Linked DNA regions of Homo sapiens: all the other regions are linked to region 1. Evidence: fine-mapped expression QTL. A gene starts in region 1. Each other region holds a variant in brackets. All regions are shown on one strand. Distances are from middle to middle. Region 1 holds the start of RUFY4 (RUN and FYVE domain containing 4). Region 2 has its middle 32 kb from the start of TNS1. Region 3 has its middle 28 kb from the start of TNS1. Region 4 overlaps CXCR2 (C-X-C motif chemokine receptor 2).

Region 1 (2,743 bases):
GAGTCACAGGCAAGCTCCAGGCTCTCCCAAGAGGCCGCTTAGAAACCAGCTCATCTGATGCAGATAGACACTCATCCCCATCCCTGTCCCTGCCACTGTTGCACACCAGCACACACACCTTCCCCTCCTTCTCGCCTTGATCATCCACCTCCACTGCCCCTGGCACCTCGCTCCATCCCAGCCCCACTGACTGTCCCTGCTCCTGCCCACCCTAGCCTGGCCCAACAGGCACCCCCTCATCCGTGTCAAAGCTGGCTGTGTGGGAGGTGGGGAGGCAGGGACATGGGGTGAAGCAAGGAGACCCACCAACAGGGAGTCCTGAGGTCACAGGGACCTAGAGAGGAGTTACCCATCCCTGGTGATGCCAAACACCTCCTCTTACTCTCCCAGGGAGAAACCAGCGCCACACCTGTACCAGGCAGAGTGGTTCCCTGGCAGACACCTGCCTCCCAGCTCAGACCTGGAGGAGGGCAGGGGGCTGGAGGACAGCAGGGGACTGGAGGAGGGCAGGGGACTGGAGGAGGGCAGGGGACTGGAGGATGGCAGGGGGTTAGAGGAGGGCAGGGGACTGGAGGAGGGCAGGGGGCTGGAGGATGGCAGGGGGTTAGAGGAGGGCAGGGGACTGGAGGGAGGCAGGGGGCTGGAGAAGGGCAGGGTGCTGGAGGAGCGCAGGGGCAGGGATCCTGGACAGGGCCTCAGACAGACTGAATTGGGAGGGCAAGAAAGAGACCAAGGGTGCAAAGTGAGACACAGGGAACAGAGAAAGGGAAGGAATGAGGGAAAGACAGGGATGGGAGACAGGGACATGACACGGGAGACAGAGATGGGGGTTTCAGCCTCTGCATGGGGGATATAGGGACGGAGGAGAGGGCAGACGGGCTGGGGCATCCCTTGTGCTGGTTTTTAGATGCGGTTCCTGGGGTTTGTGAAAACAGCCGTCCTCCCAGGCCCCTGCTCCTCTGCCCCCATACTAGCCCCTGCAGCAGCCCAGCCTGGAGAAACGAGGACCCAGCATGGAAAGACCCCAGCCTCAAGGAGGCAGAGCACAGCCAGGAAGGGAAGCCCCAGCCCACCTGGGAAACCCACCTGGCCCATTGCTGGGCACAGGATCTCACTGGTGGTCTCACATCCATCCTTTTGGGAATGAGATCAGGACTAGGGATTCGGCACTGGTGACCAGCACTCAGGTGGACCGCTCAGCTGACTGAGGTGGAGAAGGAAGGAGGAGCGTGGTGGGACCCTCGCCCTGCCCTCCCCACTCTGGAGCGCTGCCTCTCAGCCCAACCAAGTGACAGAGACGAGACAACCACAGGAATAGCAGCTGCGGAGCTCCATGGCCTCCCTCTGCCCCCTGGTGGTGAGAAGGAGAAAAGCAAGAGCAGGTGCTGAAAACGAAAAGGAAACTAGCAGCAGTCCCAGCTACCACAATGGATCAGCCCCCATTTGGCCAACAGGTGACTCTACCCCAGGTGGGCCTGAGAGGACCCATCCCCCATCTCACCATTCTGCCCCAGCGCCCTGGATCCTGCCTCTACCACTTCTTCCCTGCAGCGTCTGCGGTTCCCCCACCGCTGTGAGCCAGGTTCCCCCTCCAGGCTGCTGGGCTGGGACTGAGTTACTTCTTCCCAGGCTGTAAATCCTGGGACTGCTGTGCAAGGCAGAGTCACTAGGGACGGACTCTGGCAGCAGAGCTGCGCTCTCGTGCCCCAGCCAGCCAGGCTCTCCTGGGTGAGTAGCAGGGAGACCCCTGGAACTTACGGGGATAGAAGGAGTGTGATGCCAGGAGCCAGGGGAGGAAAATGCCTGGCAGAGACGAGGGAGAGGAGGAGACACATGGAGCCGTTCATGGATTTCACACAGGATCTGGGCTGGAAGGGGCTGCCGAGACCATCAGTCCAATCTTTGGTCTACAGGTTGGGAAACTGAGGCTCAAGGAAGGTGAGTGATTTGCCGGAGATCACACAGTGAGTTCATAGCCAGGCCAGGATGGAGACCCAGGTCTCTGGACTCCTGACCCCGTCCTCCCTGAATCCCATGCTCCACCCACCTCCCTCATTTACCTCCGTTTCCCTCTCCCCTTCCCTCCACTGTGTCCCACTGCTGTACCACTGCCACCCCACCCCAAACTCCAACAGCCACAGCCCGGGAGGCAGGACACCTGGGTTTTCCGCTCCATGCCTGGTCTTGACTCTAGGATCTCAGAATAAGGCCACCAGCTGTCAGGGCCACAGTGTCCCTCTCTGGGCCCCAGGACCCATGGGGAGGAGAAGAGGATGAGATCCCCCTGGAGAGAAAGGCAGTATTACAACCAGGCGCCCTGCTCCCCACACACACGCAGCATGTGCTCAGCCCCAGCCCTGGGGCCGTGCTTTACTTCTGCACCCTCTCCTCAAAGAACACATATTTTCCATTCAGCTGGGGCACAGGAAAGGATGAGTAGGTGTCTCGAGGAGACTGAGTACCCAGGCAAGGCTAGGGGCACTCCATGGGGAAGGAGTGGACACCCCCAGCCTAGTGTCCACATATCATGAGCCCTCACGGGGTCACTCACACCAAGTCAGGACCCAGAACACAGGCCCTGTGGGCACAGACACCTGAGTTCAAGTCCTGGGTACCTCTGTGATGCTGGATAAAAGACTTACCCTCTCCAATCCCCTGTTTCTCCTGGTCTAAAATGGAGTTAATAACCTCCAGGATTATGTGAGGATTGAATGGGACAAGGACATCAAGTGTTAGCACAGTG
Region 2 (2,743 bases), 34 kb before region 1:
TGGAGGCCCCTTCACCCGGTCGTGGTCCTTCCTCCCCCTTGGTCCACCTGCCTTGCCGCACTTCCCAAGCAGACTAGCACCGTCCTGGGCTGGCTACTTAACCTGTGTCAGGTGCCCTGGGCTCTGCCAACCGCCAGCTCCCGACTCGGGGCGTCGTCCCTCACCCATTCCCGCAGCCCCTACCTGAAGCGGTAGCTGCCTTCTCTCTGCACAGGCCAAACCCCCGGACTCCCAGCACTCAGCCCGCGCCGAGACCCAGGGACTCCCCGGGGGCTGGGGACCGCAGAGTGGTCCGGGCCGCAGCTCTTCGCAGCACACCAGGCTCACAGTGCAGCCCATCCGGCCTGGCGCCCCGGCGGGCAGGGGCGGAGACGCGGGAGCCCCAGAAGCCGGCCCGCCCCCAGCCCTTGCGACAGCTCAGCCCAGAGCGCCTGCGACATTGGCAGGCGAGCAGCAACGACCCCAGCCTGGCCCCGACAGAGTCCCTGCCTTTATGTCCAGCAGCGACAGGAGCCCCCACTGTGGGGCCTGATAAGGGTCTGCAATACAGGTCCCGAACACAGCCAGTGAGGAAGCCCACCTCAGGGAGGGGAGAAGGGAGGGCGGCAGTGGTGGAGTCCTTGGGACAGGGACTTCAGACAGTCTGACTTGGGGGGCAAGGTGAGAAACACACCAAGAACGTGACAGAGGGACAGGGAGAAGATAAAGGCAGACAATGAGGAAGAGGCAGAGATGAGGGACAGAGATGGGGGAAGCAGCCTCCGCATGGGGGATATAGGTGCAGGACGGAGCCGAGGATAGAAACCCTCGGGCATCCGTTGTGCTGGTTTTTAGATGCGGTTCCTGGGGTTTGTGAAAACAGCCGTCCTCCCAGGCCCCTGCTCCACTTCCCTAATACTAGCCCCTGGAGCAGCCGAGCCTGGAGAAACGAGGACCCGGCATGGAAAGACCCCAGGCTCAAGGAGGCAGAGCACAGCCAGGGTGGGGGACCCCAGCCCACCGGGGAAACCCGCCCGGCCCATTGCTGCGCACAGGATCTCACTGGTGGTCTCACATCCATCCTTTTGGGAATGGGATCAGGCCTGGGGGGTCGGCACTGATGACCAGCACTCAGGGGGACCGCCTCAGCTGACTGAGGTGGAGACAGGAAGGAGGAGCGTGGTGGGGCCCTCGACCTCCCCTCCCCACTCTGGAGCGCTGCCTCACAGCCCAACCAAGCGACACGGAAGAGACAACCACAGGAATAGCAGCTGCGGAGCTCCATGGCCTCCCTGTGCCCCCTGGTGGCGAGAAGGAAGAAAAGCAAGAGCAGGTGCTGAAAACGAAAAGGAAACTAGCAGCAGTCCCAGCTACCACAATGGATCAGCCCCCATTTGGCCAACAGGTGACTCTACCCCAGGTGGGCCTGAGAGGACCCATCC[C/T]CCATCTCACCATTCTGCCCCAGCGCCCTGGATCCTGCCTCTACCACTTCTTCCCTGCGCAGTCACTAGGGACGGACTCTGGCAGCAGAGCCGCGCTGTCGTGCCCCAGCCAGCCAGGCTCTCCTGGGTGAGTAGCAGGGAGACCCCTGGAACTTACGGGGATAGAAGGAGTGTGATGCCAGGAGCCAGGGGAGGAAAATGCCTGGCAGAGACGAGGGAGAGGAGGAGACACATGGAGCCGTTCATGGATTTCACACAGGATCTGGGCTGGAAGGGGCTGCCGAGACCATCAGTCCAATCTTTGGTCTACAGGTGGGGAAACTGAGGCTCAAGGAAGGTGAGTGATTTGCCCGAGATCACACAGTGAGTGTGTAGCCAGGCCAGGATGGAGACCCAGGTCTCTGGGCTCCTGACCCCGTCCTCCCTGAATCCCATGCCCCAGCCACCTCCCTCATTTACCTCCGTTTCCCTCTCCCCTTCCCTCCACTGTGTCCCACTGCTGTACCACTGCCACGCCACCCCAAACTCCAGCAGCCACAGCCCGGGAGGCAGGACACCTGGGTTTTCCGCTCCATGCCTGGTCTTGACTCTAGGATCTCAGAATAAGGCCACCTGCTCTCAGGGCCACAGTGTCCCCGTCTGGGCCCCAGGATCCATTGGGAGGAGAAGAGGATGAGATCCCCCAGGAGAGAGGCAGTATTAAAACCAGGCACCCTGCTCCCCCCACACACGCAGCATCTGCTCAGCTCCAGCCTTGGGGCCGCGCTTTACTTCTGCAACCTCTCCTCAAAGAACACACATTTCCATTCAGCTGGGGCCCAGGAAAAGATGAGTGGGTGTCTCGAGGAGGATGAGTACCCGGGTGAGGCTGGGGGCCCTCCATGGGGAACATGGGGACACTCCCAGCCTAGTGTCCACATGGCATGAACCCTCACGGGGCTGCTCACACCAAGTCAGGGCCCAGAACACAGGCCCTGTGGGCACACACACCTGAGTTCAAATCCTGGGAACCTCTGTGATGCTGGATAAAAGACTTACCCTCTCTGTGCCCCAGGTTCCCCTCTAGCCTCCCAGGGTTATGTGGGGATTGAATGGGACAAAGATATTAAACAATTAGCACAGTGTCGTCGCCCAGGGACTGCTCAATCGGTGGAGGCCACACCATCATCTTCACACCCTGGCCTACAAAATAGAGCTGGGATTTTCCCTTGCTGTGTGGCCAGATATAAGTCTTTCCCTCTCTGGACTTTACACAAAGGAGGCTCTGCATCCTCCTTTGTGTAAGGAGAGAGTTGGGCAGTGAGACTCAGGGTTCTTCCTGG
Region 3 (2,743 bases), 38 kb before region 1:
TCCTTTGATTCCGAGACACGTGGGTCTTCCAGAGACATCATCAAAATGGAGGGACACATATACCAAACAGAAATCTGGCTTCATGATCTTCAAAACACATGCATGAAAGTGTTCTTAGCAGTGCTACTCACAGTAGCCCAAAACTAGAAATGACTCGAACGCCTGTCAATAGCAGAATGGATAAATGGACAGCGTGTCTTCACACAGTGGGACGCTGTCCAGCAATGAGAAGGAACGCTCAAGACCACACCCAGGAATATAGATAAAGTTCACAACCATGATATTGAGCACAAAAGAATACATATGATGTGCTCCACTGATTACAAGTGCCATTCATTTATTAGACATTCTAGAACAAGTAACTCCCTGTGGTTAGAAGTCGGGATTGCGCACTGCCCTCCAAGGGGGATTAGTGACTGGAAGGGGCAGGAGGCACATTCTGAGAGCTGTCACTGTTCTGTTTCTAGACTCTGCATGCCAAGTATGTGAGTACGTGCGTGTGTTCAGTCAGTGGGAAGTTTGTACACTTTTCTGTGTTTAGGAAATATTTCAACACACTAATACAGACAAATGCCTTCACAGCCACCCTCTCTGTGAGATGAGAGGGGTTATTTTCAACTTCCTCCTGCTCCTCGTCCACATCCAAGCCATCTCCATGTCCAGTCCTTTCTCCCAAGTTAGTCATGGCCCCACTCAGCCCTCTCCCTGGCTGACCGTCTCTAACTCTGACCACCGGGCACCTCCCTGCCTGCCCTGCCTCCCAGGCACCTTGCTTTGACTCTCTCCCTCCCAATCCATATACACACAGCATGTGTGCTAGGGCTCCCGGGGAGCCAGGAGCAGCCAGGAAAGCCTTTGTCCACTTCTATAACAGGTCCCGGCTCTTCTCCATGCTGGGACCTTCAAGTCGGCTGCTCCAACCACCTGGAATGCTTCTTCCTCCCAGCTGCTCTTGCTTCAGCTCCTCATTCAGATGTCACTTCCTTCACCTTCCCGGTGCAATCCCTCTGGAATCCTCACCCATCACATCCTGAACTTAGCCTCCATAGCACTGTCTCCAGTCAGCTCAATGACTTGTTTGCAGTCTGTTC[C/T]ATCTCTCCCACTGGATTGACAACCCCCTGAGGGCAAGGACCCGAGCTGTCTGCTTTCTGCCCTATCCCCAGCCCCAAGCTCCATGCCTGGCCTATAGCAGATGCTCAAAAATGCTTGAATCAGTGTTGAATAAATGAATGGCCAAGCGCATCTGGCTTACAGGCAGCCTCTGGGGAAAGCAAAAGTTGCATCTGGGGATGAAACCCTCACTTGTCTGGACCCAGGACTCCTGGGATGTGGTCCCAGCACTGAAACTCACTTCTAGTGTGACCTTGGGCAAGTCACACTGAGGACGCCCCCTCTGGTCTTCAGTGTGCTGTTTTGAAATACACGGGGTGGATAAATCAGGGCTATAGTGGGGCTTGAAGAAATATATGACATTGTGTATGTTTGCACAGTGGCTGTGTGTCTGTGTGTGTCAGTGTGTGTGTGAGACTGTGTGTAAGCGTGTGTGTATGCATGTATGCGTGAGCATGGGTATGAGTGTGTGAGCATAAGTATGAGTGTGTATGTGTGTGAGCATGTGTGTGAACTGTGTGTATGAGTGTATGTATGAGTGTGAGTGTGGGAGTGTATGTGTGTATGTGTGTGTATGTGAGTGAGCATGTGAGCATATGTGTGAGTGTATGTGTGTGTTTGTGAGTGTGTGAGCGTGTCTGTGTGTATGAGTGTGTGTGAGCATGTCTGTGTGTGTGTGTGTATGTGTTGTGTGAGCATGTCTATGAGTGTCTTGTGTGAGTGTGAATGTGTCTGTATGTGTGTGAGTGTGTCTGTGTGTATGAGTGTGAGTGTGTGAGCATGTCTGTGTGTGAGTGTATGAGTGTGTTGTGTGTGAGCGTGTATGAGTGTGTGAGTGTGTCTTTGTGTATGAGTGTGGGTGTGTGAGCATGTCTGTGTGTGAGTGTATGAGTGTGTGTTGTGTGTGAGCATGTCTGTGTGTGTATGAATGTCTTGTGTGAGTGTGTGAGTGCACCTGTGTGTATAAGTGTGTGTGTGCATGTGTGTATGAGCATGTCTGTGTGTGTGAGTGTATGAGTGTGTGTTGTGTGTGAGCAAGTCTGTGTGTATGAGTGTGTCTTGTGTGAGTGTGTGTGTGCCTGTGTGTATGAGTGTATGTGTGTGTCTGTGTGTGTGTGCACCTTCTCCCTAGCAAGAGCACCCATAGGTTACATCAGATTCTCAAAGGGATCTGTGTCCTCAAAAGGCTCAGAAGCACTAAGATCCTTTTCAGCTCTGGGGTCTCTGATTCTACATAACAAGAAAGAGAGGAAGAGGAGGTCATCCAACCCATGGGGGAGGGAGTCAGACCAGATCCTAGAACTTCCAAAAGGGTTGCAGGCCCCACAACAGGAATGCAGGGGAGGCTGCAGGACCAGGCCCCAGGAGAACGTCTAACCTCAGTAGTTCTCCGGGCTGAAAGAAGCAGAGCCCAGAAGAGCTGACTGCAGAAACGGAAGAGGCAACAGCAGCCAGGAGTCTCCTCCCCACTGCTCCCGCCCCATCCACAAGCACCCACTTGTCCTGGGATACAGCAGAGAGCAAGGAGGCACGACTGGCACCCGGAGATGCCCGCCAGGCCCCTTGGCACCCAGAAGGCTTGGCTGGAGGACTCAGGAGGGTGCCAAGCCCCAACCTCTTGCTCCTGAGGCTG
Region 4 (2,500 bases), 61 kb after region 1:
AGTGTTCATGGCTCTGCCTGGATTAATTCATTCATTTGTAATCAATAGCAAATTGATAAAATACATTCTTAGGGTCACTTAACATTGTTTTTAAAAATGCATTTGGACTTTGGTGGAATCTTCCCTTTTACCAAAAGGCTTTCTTTCCAAATTAGAGGGTCTTGGCTCCAAGGGTGGTAAGCTGCTGCAGAGTTGGTGTCCTCAGACCCAATGCCAAGTGTGCGAAACAAGAAAGAATATCAATACCCAGAGATGGACTTGTGGTCAGAGCAGATGGTTGGGGAGTGAGGGGAAAGACAAGAGGCAGGAGTGGGGCCAAGAAGTAGAGGCATCAGGTCCAGGGAGGAACGCCACCAGACTCACCAGAAGCTTTAGTCCATCTCTGTCATTTTAATGCACTGCTCCCTTTGACATGTGAAAGACATTGAAGGCTATAGTACTGCCAATGGTATGATGGGGAAGCCTGAGGCAGCTGGAATGCCAGGAGACTCAGACAAGGCAGCTGAAGGAGCCAGCGGCTCTGAGATACAGCAAAGATGAAAGAAATCCATGCAATCCTGGGCAAGCCATTTCCTTTGGGCTTCAGTTTCCCCATCTGTAAAATGGAAAGACTAGGTAGAAAACCCCTCAGGTCCCTTCCCAATATAAACTCTACGAGTCTATGAAATGACTATGCATCCGAGAGCTGATCTGGGAACTAATTATTCAAAGTTATCAAAATCACCCGCACCCTCAGGAGCTCCACCCCTGAATTGCATTGAGCAATCTAATCTACCACTCACTTCCTCCACTGTGTTCTCACCACCACCTCCCTTTCATAGGTCACAGCTGCTCTTCTGGAGGTGTCCTACAGGTGAAAAGCCCAGCGACCCAGTAAGTCTTGGAACACCCACCCTTCCCACCAGCTAGAATGTCTCTGTTCTCTGTTTCCCTTGATACCCAGCCTACATTTATCCTAAGCATCTCTCCCCACCCTTGGTGGGCCCCTCACCCTCACCCCTTGGCCTCTTCATTTTCTCCCTTTGGGGCTCTCCATCCCCAAAGGAAGAACTTCTGTTCCTCCTCCCTCACAACCCTCTCCAACCACTCAGGGCCACTTGCTGCCCATGCTTTTCCCTTGGCCTGGCAGCCTTCCAAGACTCAGCCAGCCCTCCTGGCCTGGGCTAGGACTGGGTCTGAGGATGGGC[C/T]GAACACTGTTCGCTTCCCACTTCCCGACACTAAATGCAATATTTGTGGATTATATTTATAGAGAGAAAGAATACTGGAACTGTACTAAAATGACTCTTTTGTTGTTAAAAAGATTGCCTTAGATGTTTGAGATCTTGTAAATGTCTCTCGTTCTATAGCATTTTCATGTAATAAATTAGAATTCATGCCATCATCTATGGAGTTTCCAAACTACCATGAGTCACTAAGGGGCTGGCATTTTCCCTAAGTCAAGGAAGCTCCCTTTTTATCCTGGAATATATGACTGTGTGGTCAGCCGGACCCAGCCAGTTCAAGGGTGTTTGGTTTATCATCCCTGCAAGAGCTGTTTCTTTCATTCTGGGCCAAAGAAACGGCAAAAGAAAACAATGCATAAAACATGAAAGAATGTGAGTGGACCATATACAGGTTGATTTAATGATATCTCAAGAACTTAGCTTTGCTGGGCACGGTGGCTTACACCTGTAATCTCAGCACTTTGGGAGGCTAAGGTGGGCGGATCACCTGAGGTCAGGAGTTCGAGACCAGCCCGACCAACATAGTGAAACCCCGTCTCTACTAAAATACAAAAATTGGCCGGGTGCAGTGGCAGGCGCCTGTAATCTCAGCTACTTGGGAAGCTGAGGCAGGAGAATCACTTGAACCCGGGAGGTGGAGGTTGCAGTGAGCCGAGATCACGCCATTGCACTCCAGCCTGGCAACAGAGCGAGACTGCATCAAAAAAAGAAAAAAAGAAAGAAAAAGAGAACTTAGCTTACAAATATGTTTAATAGATGAGGTGCACTTTTTTTAAGAGGAAGGGCTATAGACTACAAATAAGGCAAGTGTAGTCCTTTATACCTCACTGGAACAGTGGTTTCACCACTTCTCCACCCTGTGATCGCAGGCTGGTTACTGAGCCTCCCTGTTAGGTCAGCTGATCCTCCTTGTGCCTCAGTCTTCTAGAAACAGGGCCTAATTGTATCTATTTGTAATGAGCCATGGAGATCATGTACCTGTGAGGCACAAAGCAGACCTCAGATGTGTCATCTCCTTCCCTTAGTTTGTCCCTCTAACTGCCAAGTCATCCTCTGTAGAGATTGGTAAACTAAAAAACAACACCAACAACAAACACCCCTCTCCCTACCCTAGGAGCTGGAGGTCACTGGCCTGACCTGGTTCTCCTTGCTGAGTTCTCTACCTTCTGTCCTGACTTGCATGCTCTCCCTCTGGAACCTGAAGCTGACCCATAATGCCTGGGAGCATGAGCTCACCCATACACCTCCAGCCCACCCCCAGCACAGCTGAGCACTGG

The links. PIP is the estimated chance that this variant, and not a neighbour inherited with it, causes the effect.
Region 2: its variant is the best candidate, but not a certain one, in a credible set for the expression of RUFY4 in blood mononuclear cells (TOPMed, PIP 0.86).
Region 3: its variant is the best candidate, but not a certain one, in a credible set for the expression of RUFY4 in whole blood (INTERVAL, PIP 0.77).
Region 4: its variant is the best candidate, but not a certain one, in a credible set for the expression of RUFY4 in whole blood (TOPMed, PIP 0.68).

What each region holds. Positions count from the first base shown.
Region 1 is chr2:218,067,621-218,070,363 of GRCh38, forward strand. RUFY4 (RUN and FYVE domain containing 4) reads left to right here and starts at 1,633. Exons shown (of 13, transcript NM_198483.4): 1 at 1,633-1,728; 2 at 1,861-1,938. RefSeq lists an enhancer at 1,382-2,245.
Region 2 is chr2:218,033,637-218,036,379 of GRCh38, forward strand. It overlaps a transcript of TNS1 not described here and a transcript of RUFY4 not described here. Among named protein-coding and RNA genes, the nearest start is that of TNS1, 32 kb to the left of the region's middle. RefSeq lists enhancers at 688-1,221, 1,222-1,754, 2,610-2,699 and a silencer at 1,548-1,597. The variant C/T (reference allele first, on the strand shown) is at 1,422.
Region 3 is chr2:218,029,350-218,032,092 of GRCh38, forward strand. It overlaps a transcript of TNS1 not described here. Among named protein-coding and RNA genes, the nearest start is that of TNS1, 28 kb to the left of the region's middle. RefSeq lists an enhancer at 2,300-2,743. The variant C/T (reference allele first, on the strand shown) is at 1,092.
Region 4 is chr2:218,128,493-218,130,992 of GRCh38, forward strand. CXCR2 (C-X-C motif chemokine receptor 2) reads left to right here. Exons shown (of 3, transcript NM_001557.4): 2 at 822-873. Among named protein-coding and RNA genes, the nearest start is that of CXCR2, 3.7 kb to the left of the region's middle. The variant C/T (reference allele first, on the strand shown) is at 1,188.